Regions from separate parts of the Homo sapiens genome. Here region 1 is linked to region 2. A link means that fine-mapping ties the variant in region 2 to the expression of a gene that starts in the linked region. Tissue or cell type: whole blood. Region 2 holds a variant in brackets; the other region holds the start of a gene. All regions are shown on one strand. Distances are between the middles of the regions.

Region 1 (8,178 bases), 24 kb before region 2:
ATTCCCAAGGTCCAGAACAAGAAGCTCGGAAACGTGCTTAGATTTCCAAGTGTTCAGTTCTCAATACCATGCCATTCTCTTTGGAGTTTATGATGCCTTCCAGGGAGAGCAGAGCCCACGTGAGCTTTCCAACAGTAAGACTACTGCTGTAATAAATCATATTGCCCATTTGTGGCGCACTTACTCTATGCTGAGGTTGTATAAGGGCTTACATGAGCCCTATCTCATTTAAATTGTTTTCACCAAAGGGTGTGTGTCCCACTGCTGACCTGTTGAGCTAACCATCCCCTCTCAGTACTTGAAAACCTGCACCTGCCCAAGCCATGGCCTGGCTTCAATGGGGCTTCCTCCTGCACTGAATGAGATGACAAGAAAACAATGAAACACTTGTCCCCAAAAGTGACTTATTGGATTCGTTGGCAGAATGTTAGAAAGTGGGTATGAAGCCCAAGAAACAGGACACGGAGCCTCACCAAGCCCGAGGAGTATTACCGAATCCTAGCCCAGGCCAAGAATGAGTCACAATGAAAGCTTTTAAAATGTAAAACCATCAACCTAGATTTCAATTCCAAGGAAACACATACTTGGCCATGGGGGAATGCTTTAAAAAAAAAAAAAAATCAAGCTTAAGTCACTTGACAGGAAAATAAAACAGCCAAGGAACATTCAAATATAATGATTTACATCCTTCCCCAACTCCCTTCCAGTGTGGGTCAGGGCGAACATGGACCATGGACGTGACTGGAGCCAGGGGTGCATGCCCTCTCTGGGCTCCCTCTTGGTTAACACTATTTCAGGCACACAATCCCATACCTAAACACAGCCTGCTTAGAGCTGCACCGTGCTGCCTTTGGGGCCTGGTCAGAGCTGCACGGTGCTGCCTTTGGGGCCTGGTCAGAGCTGCACGGTGCTGCCTTTGGGGCCTGGTCAGAGCTGCACGGTGCTGCCTTTGGGGCCTGGTCAGAGCTGCACGGTGCTGCCTTTGGGGCCTGGTCAGAGCTGCACGGTGCTGCCTTTGGGGCCTGGTCAGAGCTGCACGGTGCTGCCTTTGGGGCCTGGTCAGAGCTGCACCGTGCTGCCTTTGGGGCCTGGTCAGAGCTGCACGGTGCTGCCTTTGGGGCCTGGTCAGAGCTGCACGGTGCTGCCTTTGGGCTGCTATGCCAACTTCTTGGATTTTCCTGACCTCCCCGCTGTTAGGCTCTTGGGTTGCTTGGGGTGGCTGTTTTGGGAATACCAGGATTTTTCTTCCATTATTTGTGTGCAAGCAGTGTTCATTTCGCTCAAAGAAATGGAAGCTTGATTGATCTCCTAAATGTAAGAATGAGATTGTCCTGTAATAAATATTTAAGACTGACCAGGAAAGGCGACCACCATCTGCTGAAACACAAGACCAGGAATTACTTTGCTAAGCTTCCTGAACGGAGGGAATGAATGAATAACCATCCTATATAATATTTGCTCAGCACCTGGTAGTTTACAAAGAGTTTTCACTTACCTTATTTGATCTTCACAATAACCCCAGAGAAGTAGACAGGGCGCGGATTACGAGGATTACGAAAAACCCACATTTTTTTCTTTTTTTCTTAACAGATAAGGGCTCTAAAGGCTTAAAGTCACTCGAGGGAGGTCAGAGAGTTTGGGGACTAAATCTCGAGTCTCTCATTAATTCATGCACATATTTAAAAAATATTTATCCGGAGCCTGTTCCAAGCCAGATGAGATGGCAGTGGGTACAAAGATGAATAAAACACTGTCCCTGCGTAGGAAGAAGATCACGTTCTAGCCTGGGGGAGAGCGCCAGGAAAAGTAAACAGGTCCCCCCCTGCTTTGTGAGGTGATGAGTGCTGGGGAGATAGGAAGAGAGTGGGGACCATGTTTCTAATCTGATTCTCCTACCGACGACCAGCTCAGTTGTTATTTACAAATACCTGTCCCCTAAAGGGGGGAGCGGGGTTGGGGGGGCTTGGCCGTGCTGCTGGGGTCAGAGCTCGCAGGGGGGTTCTGCCGCAGTGTGGGGACAAACTCTCCCTTATTGGGCAAATATTTCCCGGGGCGCTACGCTAAGCACACGGGCTCCCCGAATTTCCCTCCCCAGGGCCTCTCTGTCTTTGGATGGCCTGTCAGCAAGTCCCTGCAGCCTCCAGCCCGGCCCGCGCGGCGACCCAGTCCCCTGTCGCCCGAATCTTCCACCGCTGCGAAGCGTCCCCGGGCGAGCGCCCTGCTCTCCGCGCTGCGCGGAAGCCAGAGCCGGTCCTCACAGTGAACTCGCCCAGCCCTGCTCGCGGCTCTCTCGATTTTATGTGGGTTTCGTTGGATGCATTTTGTTATTTGCCTCAATGGATGTTTCACATTAATTTTTAGTTGCACAACGAACGCGCGGGAACATTCTCCGTGAGAGAAAAAGCACGGGTGGGGGGCGGTTACCGGTGCTTCCCCCGGTCGCCTGGGGGTCCCGCACGCGCCCCGCGGGTGCCGCTGTCTGGCTGGGGTCCCTGGGTGAGCCGCGGGCACCGGCTTCGCGTCTCCCCGGGCGCGACTCCGCTTTGCAAGCGCTCAGCACACGGGAAACCCTCGGAAAACACACACGTGTGTAAAGTTTGTTCCACGCAGAAACAAAGGACGCGTGGGGGCCGCTTCTGGGGCCTCGGTCCTTTGTTGGAACCCCGCACCGCAGCCCGGCCCGCAGCCTCGCCCCGCAAGGGGAAGCCGGCCCTGCACAGGCCCGGGGCCCGGAAGGCGCCGCCGCACAGCTCTGCGCCCCCGACCCGCTCCGGCCGCGCGCTGGGCCAGGCCCTTGGCCTCAAGCCTCCCGGGCGGCTCCGGGCCGGACCCGGGTCTCCGTCGCGGGACGCCAGCCTGTTTGTGGGTGCCGTGCTCGGGCCCGGGCGGCCCCTGCCCGACGCGGCCCCACGGAGCCCCTGCACGAACCCCGCCGACCTGGCCCGGGGCGGCAAGTCGAGGTGCTTAGGGCGCCCTGGGCCCGGCCAACCGTGGAAAACCCGGCCCGGGGCACGGGGGGGCGCGGGGGTCGCAGGGCCAGGGCCCAGGCAGGGAACAGAGATTTTTTTCGCGGGGAGGGGGGTGGGAGGTGTCAAAGTTTTCGGGGAACTTTTCCACTTGAGATTCCACGACCCTGCAGTGCCCCCTACAGAAAGCGGCAGCTGGGGAGGGCGGGCGCCCCCGACGACCCCCGACTGCCAGCGGCGGCGCGGCCAGGCTGCCTGGAGTTCTTGTTCCTTTTTTTTTTTTTTTTTTCCTTTTATTTCCTCGTGGTTGTTTGTCGGATACATCTTTTTCCAGAGTGGGAAAAAAAAAAAAAAAAGCGAGCGCCGCCGCCTGCAGTAGAGCGTGCTCGGCCTGCAGAGGCAGTCGTCTCCAACTTTTCCTCTCCCGCTCCAACTCCCCGCGCCCAAAACTTCAGTTCTTGGGGAGCCCAAATTTGCCTGCCGCGCAACTTCCACTCTAATTCAGCGACCAAGGGCCCTGGCAGCGGTTTGCAGCCTGGGGGCCACGCTCCCCAGGCTCAGGCCTGCTCGTTGGCCTGCTCCTAGTGCCTGGACCCAGTTGGGGGAGGCGAAACAGGGCGCCCGAGGAGCACCCCGGGAGAGGGCGGAGCACTCCCGTGCCCCGGGGCAGGAGTGCAGGGAGCTCCCGCGCCCGGAACGTTGCGAGCAAGGCTTGCGAGCGTCGCAGGGGGGCACTCGCGAGGGACGGACAGGAAGAGGGCCAGGGGGGAACGCCAGAACCCGGGACCACAGCACGGAAACGGTCCGGGGCTGAGCTGCAGTCAGATCCGGGGATGGAGGGAGCCGGAGAAGAGGAGTGAGAAGGCCGGGGAGGCAGGCCCTGCTGTCTTCCTGCAGGCCGGCAGCCTGCTGGCAGTGGAGGACCAGGCCGTCCAGGAAAGGAAGGGGTCAGGAGGTCGGGCAGGGCCTCAGCAGGTTCAGACAAGTCCCCAGAAGGGAGCTGCAGGCGCCCTCGAGTCCAGGCCCCAAGCCTGGCTCCGGTTGTCCAAAGAGGGCCTAGGCCAGGCCTCTGGTGCGGAAACTGAGTCACAGCCAGACCTCAGGGCACGGCCTAGACGCTTACGAGCCAAAGTTAGGGGTAGAGAGCAGAGACCTCCGGGGGGTCTCAGGGAGTAGGGGGCTTCAGGGCCTCCCAGTCTAGAGCCGGATTGGCGAGTTAGACGCTTGTAGATCCAAGGTTGGATTGGGGTGGGGTCTCTGGGACGTTGGATCGCTACGCAAGGATTGGGGGGATTCAAGTGCTTAGAGATCGAAGTCTGCCCTGGGTAGGGGGAGTCAGACAATTGGAAAGCCTAGGTAGTTATTTGGGGAGGGGTCTCTACGCCTTGGCGAAGCGCACAGCTGCATCTTTTTGGCTTGAGGCCTGAGGCCTTGTCGAGAAGCTTCCGTGAAAGGGTGGGCCAGCCGGGCCACGAGAAAGAAAGTGAATAAATCAGGAATATAAGTGGGCGGGGGGCCCCTGAGAGGGGGGTCGCAAAGGGTGAGACATGGCCACCAGGCGTTTAACCGACGCTTTCTTGTTGTTGCGGAATAATTCCATCCAAAACCGGCAGCTGTTAGCCGAGCAAGTGAGTAGTCACATCACCTCCAGCCCTCTGCATTCACGTAGCATTGCTGCGGTGAGTCTCCTGGCGGCCTCTCCGACACACGGACCGTGTGCACTGCGGCTCTGCCTGTTTGTCTGTCTCTGTCTGTCTCTCTGTTTAAAAAGAGAAGATAAGAATAATAAGACTAAGAATAATAAGATCTCTTGGCTAGAGTCAGGGGGCATCTGTAGCCCTGGATGAGGAAGAAGCGGTGCTGTGAGGCCGCAGCTCCACCTCTGCCCGGTCTTCTCCTCACTTCCGCAGCACCCCCCCCCCCGCACCCCCCGCCTTGGCGTCACTGCGCTACAGGCCGCCTGTAATTTACATATGTTTTAACGCTAACATTGGGAAGCATTGGGCCTTTCTGAAGCCTTTTTGTTTCGTTTTGTTTGAAGCTCCCCTCCCCCCAGTAATGAGCCTCAGTTTGGTCCTAAGGGCTGGGTCGCCGGATCGTAGACCCAAATCCTTGCAAAATGAACGACTCCCTCCCCTCAAAGAGGAGGGAGTTGTGTTGTTGTTTTGTTTTGTTTTGTTTTTCCGCCCGTTTTCTTTTAACGGCCCCGCAGCCCTCTGTGTGGCCTTGTTCCCTGTGAATAATTGCCTCACTGTTCTTCCTGGGGGCTTGCGTTTGTGAGACTCAAGGTGCTAGCCTCTTCACTTTCCATTTCCCAGACAGGAAATTAAGCTTTCCTCTCCATTCGAACTTTTTAAAAAAAGCCTGAGGAGGTATATGTGAAAATTAACCCCGTAAAATAGCACTTTTTTTTTTTAATTAACCACAACCTTTAGTTAGCCTAGCAGTAGCGTTTTTTAAGGGTGGTCCTGGAAAAATTACTGTTTGGGGTTTGTTTTTAATGGGGGCTACTTTTCCCTTTCTGAGCCTCAGTTTACTGCTCTGTTAAATAAGGGGCGAGTCTGGATGATCTATACCAGACAGTGATCGTTAGCTCTGTAATGTCTTCAATTGAAAAGTGAAGTTATGAAACTGGCTGTAGTTCAGGCTACCTGCTGTAGGCAGACTAGGTTGGAATAGAAGCAGCGTTGGAACAGGCGGGAAATAGCCATCCCAGGACCACATTCTTGGGGGTTATACTTGATATTAGGCAATTTTGGAACATTCATTTCACCTCTTAGGGACTGTATTGCCAGTTTATTTTTTTCTTTATGGCTTTATCTAAATGCTTCAGGAAAATTTTGCCATATGTCATGATTATCATGTCTACAAAGACAGTTTCTCCTTTTTGTAAGTCACAGGTGGAGAATGTCTTTGGCCATATAACTGATAGAAAAGTCATTTTAAGCCGTGTGAGCGGTTTCAGGAATAAAAGCATGTAAACTCAGGTCAAACAGCCTAGAACTAGGGACAGAGTGTGTGTGAGATTTCAGTTAATTAAGAAGTTGAAGGGTTTTTTTTACATTTATAAACGGAAAGGAATTACATTATATTGAAATAAATGTAAAGATGTCTGGTAGCATAGAAACAGGCTAATTCTAGCGCTAATTTTGAAGAAGAAATAATCCAAGAAATCGAGTAGAAATTGGATGAATTCAATTCCTTAATGGAACTTCAGTAATGTTAAATAAGAACTGCATGTTCCTTAAATGACTTGATTTTGTGCTGCCTCAAAAACTACTGAAACTCATATTAAGATTTCTAAGGTATCAGTTTTAATTGAAAAACATATTGTTTATTTTTCAATTTTTAATCATTAAGGTTCAAAATACCCTGAACCTTTGGGTAACATGAGGGTTTTTTTTTTTTTCCCGATTAAGTCAGACAGTTTAAAAACCTAGTATCTGAGACGGGAAGCTTTTTAAAAGTGCATCTCTGAATCAGACCACTTTAGAAAATTATTTTCTAAGTTAGGCAATTTTAAAAAATATTTAAGCTAAGCAGAATAATTAAAAATGGATAGTTAACGTATACAGTTTGGAAAAATAGATATGTCAGGGTATATACAGATACATTTAGCTAACTCACAGTTTTTTGAAAATAGATTTCTAAACCCAACTAAAAATACATTTCTAAGAACGTTAAAAAATGTTTTCTAAATGTCATACCATTGAAAATGTTAATATTTATATTAGTCTGACCATTTAAAATCTTTCTCAGATCATTGAAAGCAGTCATATCATTTAAAATATCCTTATAGTCAATCCATACTATCTCAAAAATAGGTTTTGCAGTCTAACAAACATAGTTTGCCTGAATTCAAATTTAAAAATAAAACACAGATTTATATATTTTAATTGTGTTAAAAAATGGCATGTCATAAATTTCTGAAGTATTTAGGGTTGAAGTGTTACATCTTCACTTTGCTTACAGGTGATTCGTAACAAAATCTATTCTGCACACAGTACGGCGAAATGCTAACAAGACTAAATAGAGGTTATGATTTTTTCAACTTTTCTGGAAGTTGGAAAAGCTTTATAAACATTTTGAAGCAAAAGCCATGTTTAACACAATTTGTAAAATCTATTGAGTAACTCTTAGCAATGCTTTTCACTGCATATCTAGCTCACAAAAAATTTAAAGCCTTGTTTCTGACTTGTAAATTTCAAAGCCATGTAGCAAACCAAACAAAATCGTATCTGTCAAATTTTGAATATGGACTAGGTATTAGGTGACATTAAGGAATTAATTATAATACATTACATTTGCTAATTTTATTAGAGATGCCTACTGAAATGTTTAGTGGTGAAATGTCAAGGCATCTTACCTAAGTCCTTAAACCCCTCCAAAAATAGAGGAAGCAAATAAGGCAAATTGTTACTCATTGTTAAGTCTAGTGATGAGTATGTGTGCGACATTTTACCATTTTGTAGGCTTTTCTGCATGTTTGAAAATTTTTAAATAGAAACTTAAAGTAAGTATATTTGTTATAGTAAAGTAAAACAGTTAAAAAGAGGCAATTTGTAAATACATGTCTAACACTCAGGCAATTTGAAAGGAAGAAATTAAACCTAAGTTTAACTTAATTTAAAAAATAATAACCTGGAATTTTAAGTTTCCAATTAGAAGAAAAAGCTGTAGACTTTGATCTTGATGCATTTGATACCAACTAAAAATACACCTAAAATAACAGACTTTTTAAAAAAAAAATTGTAATCCTGAATTTTGACATCTTATTTCAGGAAAAAGCTGCAGAAATTAATTGCAGAGTAGTGTGTATCATACACCTCAAAGCAAAGCACACCTAAAGCCATGCCATTCAAAAAATTTAAACATGCATTTTTTGCATCCTAGTTTGAGGGAAAAAACTAGAATTTGGTTGTTGTAGTGGGGTTATTGTGTGTCCCTGTGCGTGCATACAGGGTTTTGCAGCATTCAGGCAAATATGTCAAATAAACAGGAATTTAAGGAGGATACGCAGTGACCAGATAAACACAAAGCCTCAAGGGCCAGAAGGAACCTAAAGGTCATTTGGCCTAATGTCCCCATTTGTGATAACCCCTCATGCCTATCTTATTTGGCCATGGTGTATGACAATGATGGAAAATGCCAGCAGCTCCATGATTTTTACCACTAAAAAGTCTTTGCCTGTTAATCCCAACTATTTGTGTCC
Region 2 (8,178 bases):
CTTCTTTTTCCTGTACTCCTTTCAGGGAAAAAAATTGGAGCCAATTTTCCCAACATGTGTGTGCACCTGTCCTTTATGTGTGTGTGGGTGTGTGTGTGTGTGTGTGTGTGTGTGTGTGTGTGTATATTAATATTAATCAAATATTAAATTTGATTAATTTTAAAATAATAGGACTAGTGTTGAAACCTCAGTGTTTACATTTTTTACTGAAGTCTCCTGGGTGCTAATTATCAGAGGAGTGTGGTGCTTTGAGAAAAGCCCTGGGGGGTTGGAATGTTGGAACCCTGGCTCTTAGCAGTTTAACAGTTACATGATTCTCATTTAATCCCTCTGACTCTAGTGTTCTCATCTGTAAAATGGGACTAATAATCATAGTACCATCCTCATAGGATGCTTGTTAGGGATTAAATGAGAGGAATGCAATAATAATATGATATATGATAATACAGGTTGAACATTCCTAATCTGAAATCCAAAATGCTCCAAAATTTGAAACTTTTTTTTGAGTGCCAATATGACACTCAAAGGATATATATACATAGCAATCCTAATCAGAAAATATGAAGTTCAAAATGCTCCAGAATTCAAAACTTTTTGAGTGTTAACATGATGCCACAGGTGGAAAATCCCTACACAAGACCTCATGTGACAGGTTGCAGTCAAAACTTTGTTTTATGCACAAAACTAGTAAAAATATTGTGGCCGGGCACGGTGGCTCACATCTGTAATCCCAGCACTTTGGGGGGCTGAGGCACATGGATCACCTGAGGTCAGCAGTTCGAGACCAGCGCGGTCAACATGGTGAAACCCCGTCTCTGCTAAAAATACAAAAAAATTAGCTGGGCATGGTGGCAGGTGCCTGTAACAGCTACTCGGGAGGTTGAGGCAGGAGGATCGCTTGAACCTGGGAGGTAGAGGTTGCAGTGAGCCGAGATTGCACCATTGCACTCCAGCCTGGGCAACAAGAGTGAAACTCTGTCTCAAAAAATATATATATATATATTGTATAAAATTACTTTCAAGCTATGTATATGAAACATTAATGGTATATGAAACATAAAGGTATAAGAAACATTAATGAATTTTGTGTTTAGACTTGGGTCCCATCCAGAATATCTCATTATGTGTATGCAAATATTCCAAAATCTAAAAAAAAAATCCCAAATCCAAAACACTTCTAGTCTCAAGCTTTTCAGATAAGGGATACTCAGCCTGTATATGTGTGTATTTACAAATTATATACATAGGCTACTGTCATTCCCTATAAGAATATTAATAAATCTTTTTTTGATAAATGAAGTTCTAATATTCTCTTCCCATGCCTCGAGGGTACTCATGTGAGCACCCTACTCTAGAGACCTAGTTGACTCTGACCGAGCTCAGCAATGATTCTGACGCTATAGAAGATTTCCCTTCTAATTTTGGCAGGTTATTGTGTAATGGCAATTGGAACCACTAGCGTTCAAGTAGAATTAAATTGTTGTTCACCGTTAAAATCTGATTAGGGCATTTTATTATCTTGCCAGCAGGGATTTGGGTCCTGATCCCCCTGAAACCAACTGCAGAATGGAGTGTTCAGGCTCTGGAAGATCCAGTTACATTAATTACTCCAGTGGTTCCCAGTGAACTGCTATCTCTTCTAATCCAGCATGTTTCCAATAAAAGCTCTGTTCTTCCTCATAGCCCAGTGTCCCCGTCTTCCAATTTAATTGTTTAAGAGATTAAACAATTAAACATCTTCCCCTTGAGTCCAAATTTTTAATTTTAGGTGGTAGACTGGAGTTTACCATTTCCTGCTCTGACCCATAGAGATGTGGATCCACGTTTATAGACGTGATAGTCAATTTGCAGGTCTACTTATGACAGGGGCGAGCTTACCTGGTGTTCTCTGCTTACTTGAATCCAAGTACGTAGGCAGCAAATGGGCGCAGAGCTTCTGTGCTGCTCAGAGCCTCTGTCCACTGGACCATAGATTTCTTAGGGCCCCAGGAAGTCCGAATATGGCATTTCTATGGCAGCTGAAACCAATAAGGAAACCTCAGTCTGTCAGTACTTCTTTCTCGTGAGCTAGATGTGATGGCACTAACCAGCATTCTGCCATCGAGCTCCTGACACTGCTTGAGGGTGAACTCCAGAGCCCTCCGTGTGTACCTGCAGCACACAGGGAAGGAAAACATCATCTTATGGATGATGATGTCTGTAATTTGCATATCTCATTTTTGACGTTCAGTTTTCCCAGTTGCTATTGTTGATTGTCTGTAACTGTCATTTATTACCTAGGGTACAGTCCTTGACAGAATTGACTATAACGTTGAACAGTCCTGTATCAAAACTGAAGATGGTTTGAAACAGCTTCACAAGGTAATATGTCTTTCAAGACTTGGGAATCTTAGGAACTATTTTCAAATAATCAAGAATTGGTAAGAGGGTTCTTTTCCACCATAACGATCTTCAGCATTCTTGTGTTGTCCACTCTCAATACAGTAGTGTAAAAAGGGATTCATCATTTCATTTAAAGCCAATTGTGGGGGCTGTTGCCGTTTTATTGCAGTTAATGATTCCAGGTGTATCTCACACTTAAATCCAAAATTGCTAAGAACTCCTTTTTGTGACAGTAAATTCTAAAGAGATTGGAGTTCTTTCTTTTAGAAAATATTTCATTCTTTTCTAATGCTTCTTGTTTTAGGAAATCAATTGGGCATTTGCTAAAATATGTGTTGAAAATCTGTCTGCTTGTTGCCGTTGACTTGGGCCTCTCTTGTGATACATTCCTGATGAATTGCTGATGGAGAATCATTCTGCAGAAGATAAAAATCTAATCTTCTCTTTAATTACCACAGCATATCTGTATTACCTTGAGAAAAGAGAAGTTTGTTGAAGTGAGAGTAGTAATTCTTTTATTCTGTGCTAATAAGGTAGCTGTTTCAGGGATGTTTTTATGATATTCTCTTTTAAAAAAATAGATGGAAAGCATCTTAGGAATCTTATCGGTTATAAGAAACATGCATAAACGGCTGAGACTCTCATATATAATTGGTTACGTATTTTCTTTAAAAGGAATATAACAATACTTCACAAATTAAATAATATCCATTTCCTTGTATCTTTGAGACCCAGTGGAGTTTCTAGCCATATAATGAGTGTTTTGCCAATTCACTGTTGGACTACTCTACCATTTTTCTGAAATCAGTCGCTTCCTATACCAGAGATCGCCCCATTTAATAGCAGTATTGGGTTTACAAAAAGTCAGCCCTTGCACTAGTCTAACCAGAAGCCCTGAGCTGTCTTTTCAGGGGGCTTGTTGCCATGTGTAGGTGGATATGAGACTCCAGCCTGTGGTGGGAAGAGAAGTCTGACCTTGTCTATGCAGGGTTTTTTTAAGCATTTAGATTAATTTGGTTGCCAAGCCCTGTCTATTAAAAGTGAAAACTAACTTAAGTTTCTCACTCTGTAATACCCAGGTTTTGATGTGCTGCTGAATTATGCATTGGTTTTGAAGTTTCTTAAATAAAAACTAGTGAAATATGTTTTGTAATATAACACAGATAAAAGGAAAAGCTTTCTCTGCGGGAGTGAGCAAATCTAGTGGGAACTAAAAATTTTGTTTTAGGTTCTACTTTATAAATCATTTTGAGAGGTTTTACAGTATATTATTTAGTATTGGCTTCCCTGGTGTTCTGGGTTACTTATTAGAAAAGTCAGCGTGCTCCATCTTCCCTCCAGCCACAAGGCTGTAGGCAGCACGCGCGTGCTCGGCAGTCGGCTAGTCTAAGGGTGATTGAGCGTCGGGAGCTGCTCCCCATGACCGGACTCTCGGTGCTGTCCCCGTGCCTGATGTTTCCTCCTGGTGGATGAGGGGCTCCTCCAGGTGGGCGGGCAGGCTCACTTAGGAAACAAGCCCACCGCGGGGGATGGAGCAGGAGAGATTGCCATTCTCGCCAGGGCTGCCTTCCCGCTGTCTCCTCCTCCCTCCTGTGCCATAGCAAGGTCTGGAAGAGGCAGCGCATGCTCTCCCTGGACGTGCCTCCCGGCGCCCTCTGAACTCTGCTGTCCTCTGGCTCTCCTTTCTCAGTGCTCTGCGTCTTTCGCCAGCCAGGTGGGGCCCTTTGGCATTTCTCTAGCAGGCATGATGGAGTTCCCGCTCCTGCCGAGCTTCCAGGATGCGGTGTTAAGGTGAAGAGATGTGCAGGGTGCAGCCTCGTCCCCAGATTGAGCTTGGAGGGCTCCTTTGCTGTATCGTTAGCGGCACTGGGAGGACGCGCCTCAGAGGGATCTTTCTGCATATGACATCCATGGGGCACACGTGTCTGTTTTTATTTCAAAGGATGAGTTTTTGTTTCCAAATTTAGGGGAGGTCGAAATGGGGCCTCTTCCGGG[T/C]GTCTGTTGCCTACCTGCCAGGTACGGTCCTCCAGCCCGTTGTTTCCTTCCGCGGTGAAGGAACTGTGCATTCGCTCCAGGAACACGGACCGGGAACAGGCGACCCGTGCTGCAGGGGCACTTGCCACGGCCTGCAGGAGGAAAAGCCGGGAGAAGCAGGCCCAGCTGCACCCGGAAGCATGAGCTTTCACTTCCCTGTCAGGCTTTGTCTTAGTAGTAGGTTTCCAACAAATCCATTTCCACGTCCAGGGTAAATAAGCAGCACCAGGATCATGGGGCTCTTCCACTCCTGGTGATTGAATTCCGTGGGATTGATTGGAGGGATTACAATCATGTAGCCTGTAGCAGAGACCTCAGTCACTGTGCAGAGAGATCTGGAAGCCTCATTCTGGAAACGAGTGGGACTTGATTTGGGATTTTGGGGAAAATGACGGCCTTTTTTCCCTCCTCTTTTTGTAGGCAGAACAGTATCAAAAGAAGAATCGGAAGATGCTTGTGATTTTAATATTATTTGTCATCATCATTGTGCTCATTGTTGTCCTCGTTGGCGTGAAGTCTCGATAAGTGGCATTGGGTTTTCGTGTGTGCCGCGCGTGTGGATCTCCCGGGTGTGAGGGGCTTGGCCTGCGCCCCGCCAGCTGCCCGCAGAGGTGCAGCCTCGAGGAATCTGAGGGCGTCGGGGCAGCGAACCTTTGCATCCACGGACTCCTCCTTCCCTAGTCCTGCTCAAGCGGTCCGGGGAATGGGTTTTTGTTTTTCCTTCATTGTTGAGAATTTAAGGACCTTTGATACTGCTGCACAATAGAGATTGAGTTCTGGGATCAGTTATAATATATATTTTTTTTAGAAAGAGAAAATGAGCTGAGAGTTTACAGGCACTGCAGAAGCTGTTCAGTATTATATGTGTATATGCTATTTTTTTAGCAGCCATGTCTGAGCAGAATGTTAACATAATTTTTGGAAAAATTTTCTTTAAACCATCTGGTTTTTAAGAAATTTGGTACCAAAAATTGATGAGTAGAGGCAAAAATGCCCCTTCATCTTTCTCTATATATTTTCCAGTTGAAAACAAACTAAGAAGTCCTTTAAGAATTTATAATCCGTTCCCCATTAACTTAATTTAGCTTTTCCATCACTGTTAATGATCAGAGTAACAAAGTGTGAAAAATAAGAAACCATCATTGATGTTAATTAACACATTTAGATGGGCCAGTTAAAACAGCTTCATAAGTTTTAAATTAATTGTAAATGGAATATTCCTCATTTAAAATTTTTGCACTGCATTTTCTACTGTAAACCAAAAGAGGTTACTAAGCAAAACCACCTAAATTTAAGTTGGTGATTTAAATGAATCTCACATTAAAAGAAAGCTTGACAGTGTTATGAAAGCCACCAGACTCAGCCAGTGTGTCCCCATGGGTATCCCCAGCCATCCTTGCTCAATCCATTACTTATATACTAACTACATAATGACCTGTTCAAACCAGACTCTATTTAATGAACTGTGAATTTACACAGAGGCCATTTTAAATGGGTCACCCCATTTAGGATTAGTGGATCTCAAATTATTAACCAAACATCACTCCATTTCAAAGTAAAATATTCCACCAGCGATTTGATTTATTGGCTCTTCCATTGCCACTGAGCAATGCCCAGGAAGCAGGCACATTGCCAAGGACTGGGGGCATCTTGACTAGGAAGCTCCTCGTTTGTGTGAGCGTGGGTCAGACCGCCAAAGTAGGACTTCATCGTTTACCTACCTATTATCAATATGGTGCTTGAATATATTCCTATAACTGTAGAACAGTGTGGAAAGTGATGGTAACTTTGAAGTTGTTCATGTTTTATTGGCTTTGTTTTAATTGACACTAGTAGAGTTTTAATGGTCTTTGTGTAAATTTTAATGGCTTTTCCATTGTTTTTGCTTCTCTTAAAAAGTTTAAGAAGAATATGACCTCATTAAATGTGCTGTTTTATTTGGACCAGTCACACAAAATGTCTCTCTAGAGTTGACTTTAAAGTTGTTTACAGAAATTTAAACTCAATTCCAGAGATTGAAGTTGTCCAAACAGCTCATGGGCTTAGTGTCCAAACCCCTGCCCAGCCTTCCCTTTCCAAGTTGGTGCCACCTCCAGGTAGCCATTGGTGGTTTTCCTATTACTGATGTGGCTGTGGAATGATAAGGTCCTAGAGGGGCCCTGGCATTTCAGGAAGCGGACCTGGTATTCCCTGACAAACATTGCTTAGGAAAGAGGGCCGGAGAATAAGAAGCCAGCACCTCATCAGTCAGCCCTGCAATGTGAGACTTCCGTAGCTGTTGAGAGTCACTGCAGGTGTTCTTTCATCCCATCTGATTTTAACCCATGGTTGAGACGTTCCAAGTTAGATCTGCTGCTCTTAGGTGTGGGGCTGTCCACATTAGGGAACTTGCCTCAAAAACAGTCCACAGTGGCAATACCGGACTTCTGTTCAAGCTTTTTAAAGTGCTGAGCCTTACAAACCCCTGAAGGAAAGTGACCCTTTAAGAGAGGATCATCTTTTTTTATATTTATTTTCACCAAATAGGGTGATGAGGGTTGGTTTTTGTTCCCTCAACCCATTTGGGTAAAATAACGGATCTGATTAGAAACTGTTTTAAGGAGGGGCTGGGCTCGGTGGCTCACGCCTGTAATCCCAGACTTTGAGAGGCCAAGGCGGTCACGAGGTCAGGAGTTCGAGACCAGCCTAGCCAACATGGTGAAACCCCGTCTCTACAAAAAATACAAAAATTAGCCGGGTGGGACACGCCTGTAATCCCAGCTACTCAAGAGGCTGAGGCAGGAGAATAGCTTGAACCCGGGAGGCAGAGGTTGCAGTGAGCCGAGATCACACCACTGCACTCCAGCCTGGGTGACAGAGCGAGGCTCCGTCTCAAAAAAAAAAAAAAAAAATTGTTTTAGCGCTGGGTTTCCCAAGGTGGGAGAGACAGACCCAGCCTGGAGCTGGCCCCTGGCCTGTGTGCTGACTTCTTGGGGTCCTCAAACCACTGTATTTTTCTGTTGAGCCTGTACTTGGGGAGAGATCAGTAGCATTTGAGGAAGTAAGAGAAAAGAATCATGGTACCTCAGGGTTTCTTTCCCTTTACTCGCTGGCAGCCATTGTCTGTGGGCACCTCATGTTTTTCCACACTCTACTGGGCCGTGGAGGTAACGATCACCCAGGCCAGTCTCCTCTGCCTGGGATGCGCCCTCTGAGAGGAGGCCTAGCAGGGCAGGCTCCCTCTGGGCATCCCTGGATGCAGCCTCTGGACACATGCCTCCTTTAAAGTGTCCGGGTGCAGCTCAGGTTGAGTGGAGGTAGAAGGAGAAACAGACATGTTTACCACGCGTTTTCCAAAGCTCCTGATCTTTCCCAAGATTGTAACTGAAAACTGCTGTCTCTTGTTTTGTTCGTTTTGGGGGTGGTGGTGCTGGCTGGGCCATGCTTGTGAAGTGATGTGTGTCTCTGATTTAACGGATTCACTGTTTTCTCTGCTAATTGAGAGAGCGTTATTTACATTATTTATTTGTTTTGACACAAGTGCTTTCAGTGTTTTATCCTAGCTAATGGCTTCTTAAAGGTAATAAAACCCTTCCAACGTAATTGGTCAGATAAAACTTTTTTTCTTGTATGCTTAAATAAAGCAATTAGTGAAGCACTTCTATCCAAAATGACTTTTTTGTCCTTTTTTAAAACCAATTTACTGTTACTGGAAACTTTTTGTACAATAAAGCAATCACGCAGATTAAAGAACATCCTGCAATCCTAGTATTAATTTTAACA

What was found. PIP is the estimated chance that this variant, and not a neighbour inherited with it, causes the effect.
Region 1: it holds the start of STX16, and the variant in region 2 is fine-mapped to the expression of STX16 in whole blood (TOPMed, PIP above 0.99).

Annotation. Positions count from the first base shown.
Region 1 is chr20:58,647,494-58,655,671 of GRCh38, forward strand. STX16 (syntaxin 16) reads left to right here and starts at 3,790. Exons shown (of 9, transcript NM_001001433.3): 1 at 3,790-4,645. The coding sequence starts at 4,514. It overlaps STX16-NPEPL1 (STX16-NPEPL1 readthrough (NMD candidate)), which reads left to right and starts at 3,760. Exons shown (of 23, transcript NR_037945.1): 1 at 3,760-4,645. It overlaps LOC107985410 (a long non-coding RNA gene), which reads right to left and starts at 2,142. Exons shown (of 3, transcript XR_005647058.2): 1 at 1,496-2,142. RefSeq lists silencers at 1-294, 2,693-3,052 and enhancers at 982-1,519, 4,549-4,818, 4,656-5,159.
Region 2 is chr20:58,671,351-58,679,528 of GRCh38, forward strand. STX16 (syntaxin 16) reads left to right here. Exons shown (of 9, transcript NM_001001433.3): 8 at 2,281-2,361; 9 at 4,837-8,176. The coding sequence ends at 4,941. STX16-NPEPL1 (STX16-NPEPL1 readthrough (NMD candidate)) reads left to right here. Exons shown (of 23, transcript NR_037945.1): 8 at 2,281-2,361. Among named protein-coding and RNA genes, the nearest start is that of NPEPL1, 17 kb to the right of the region's middle. RefSeq lists enhancers at 4,477-5,002, 5,003-5,527. The variant T/C (reference allele first, on the strand shown) is at 4,378.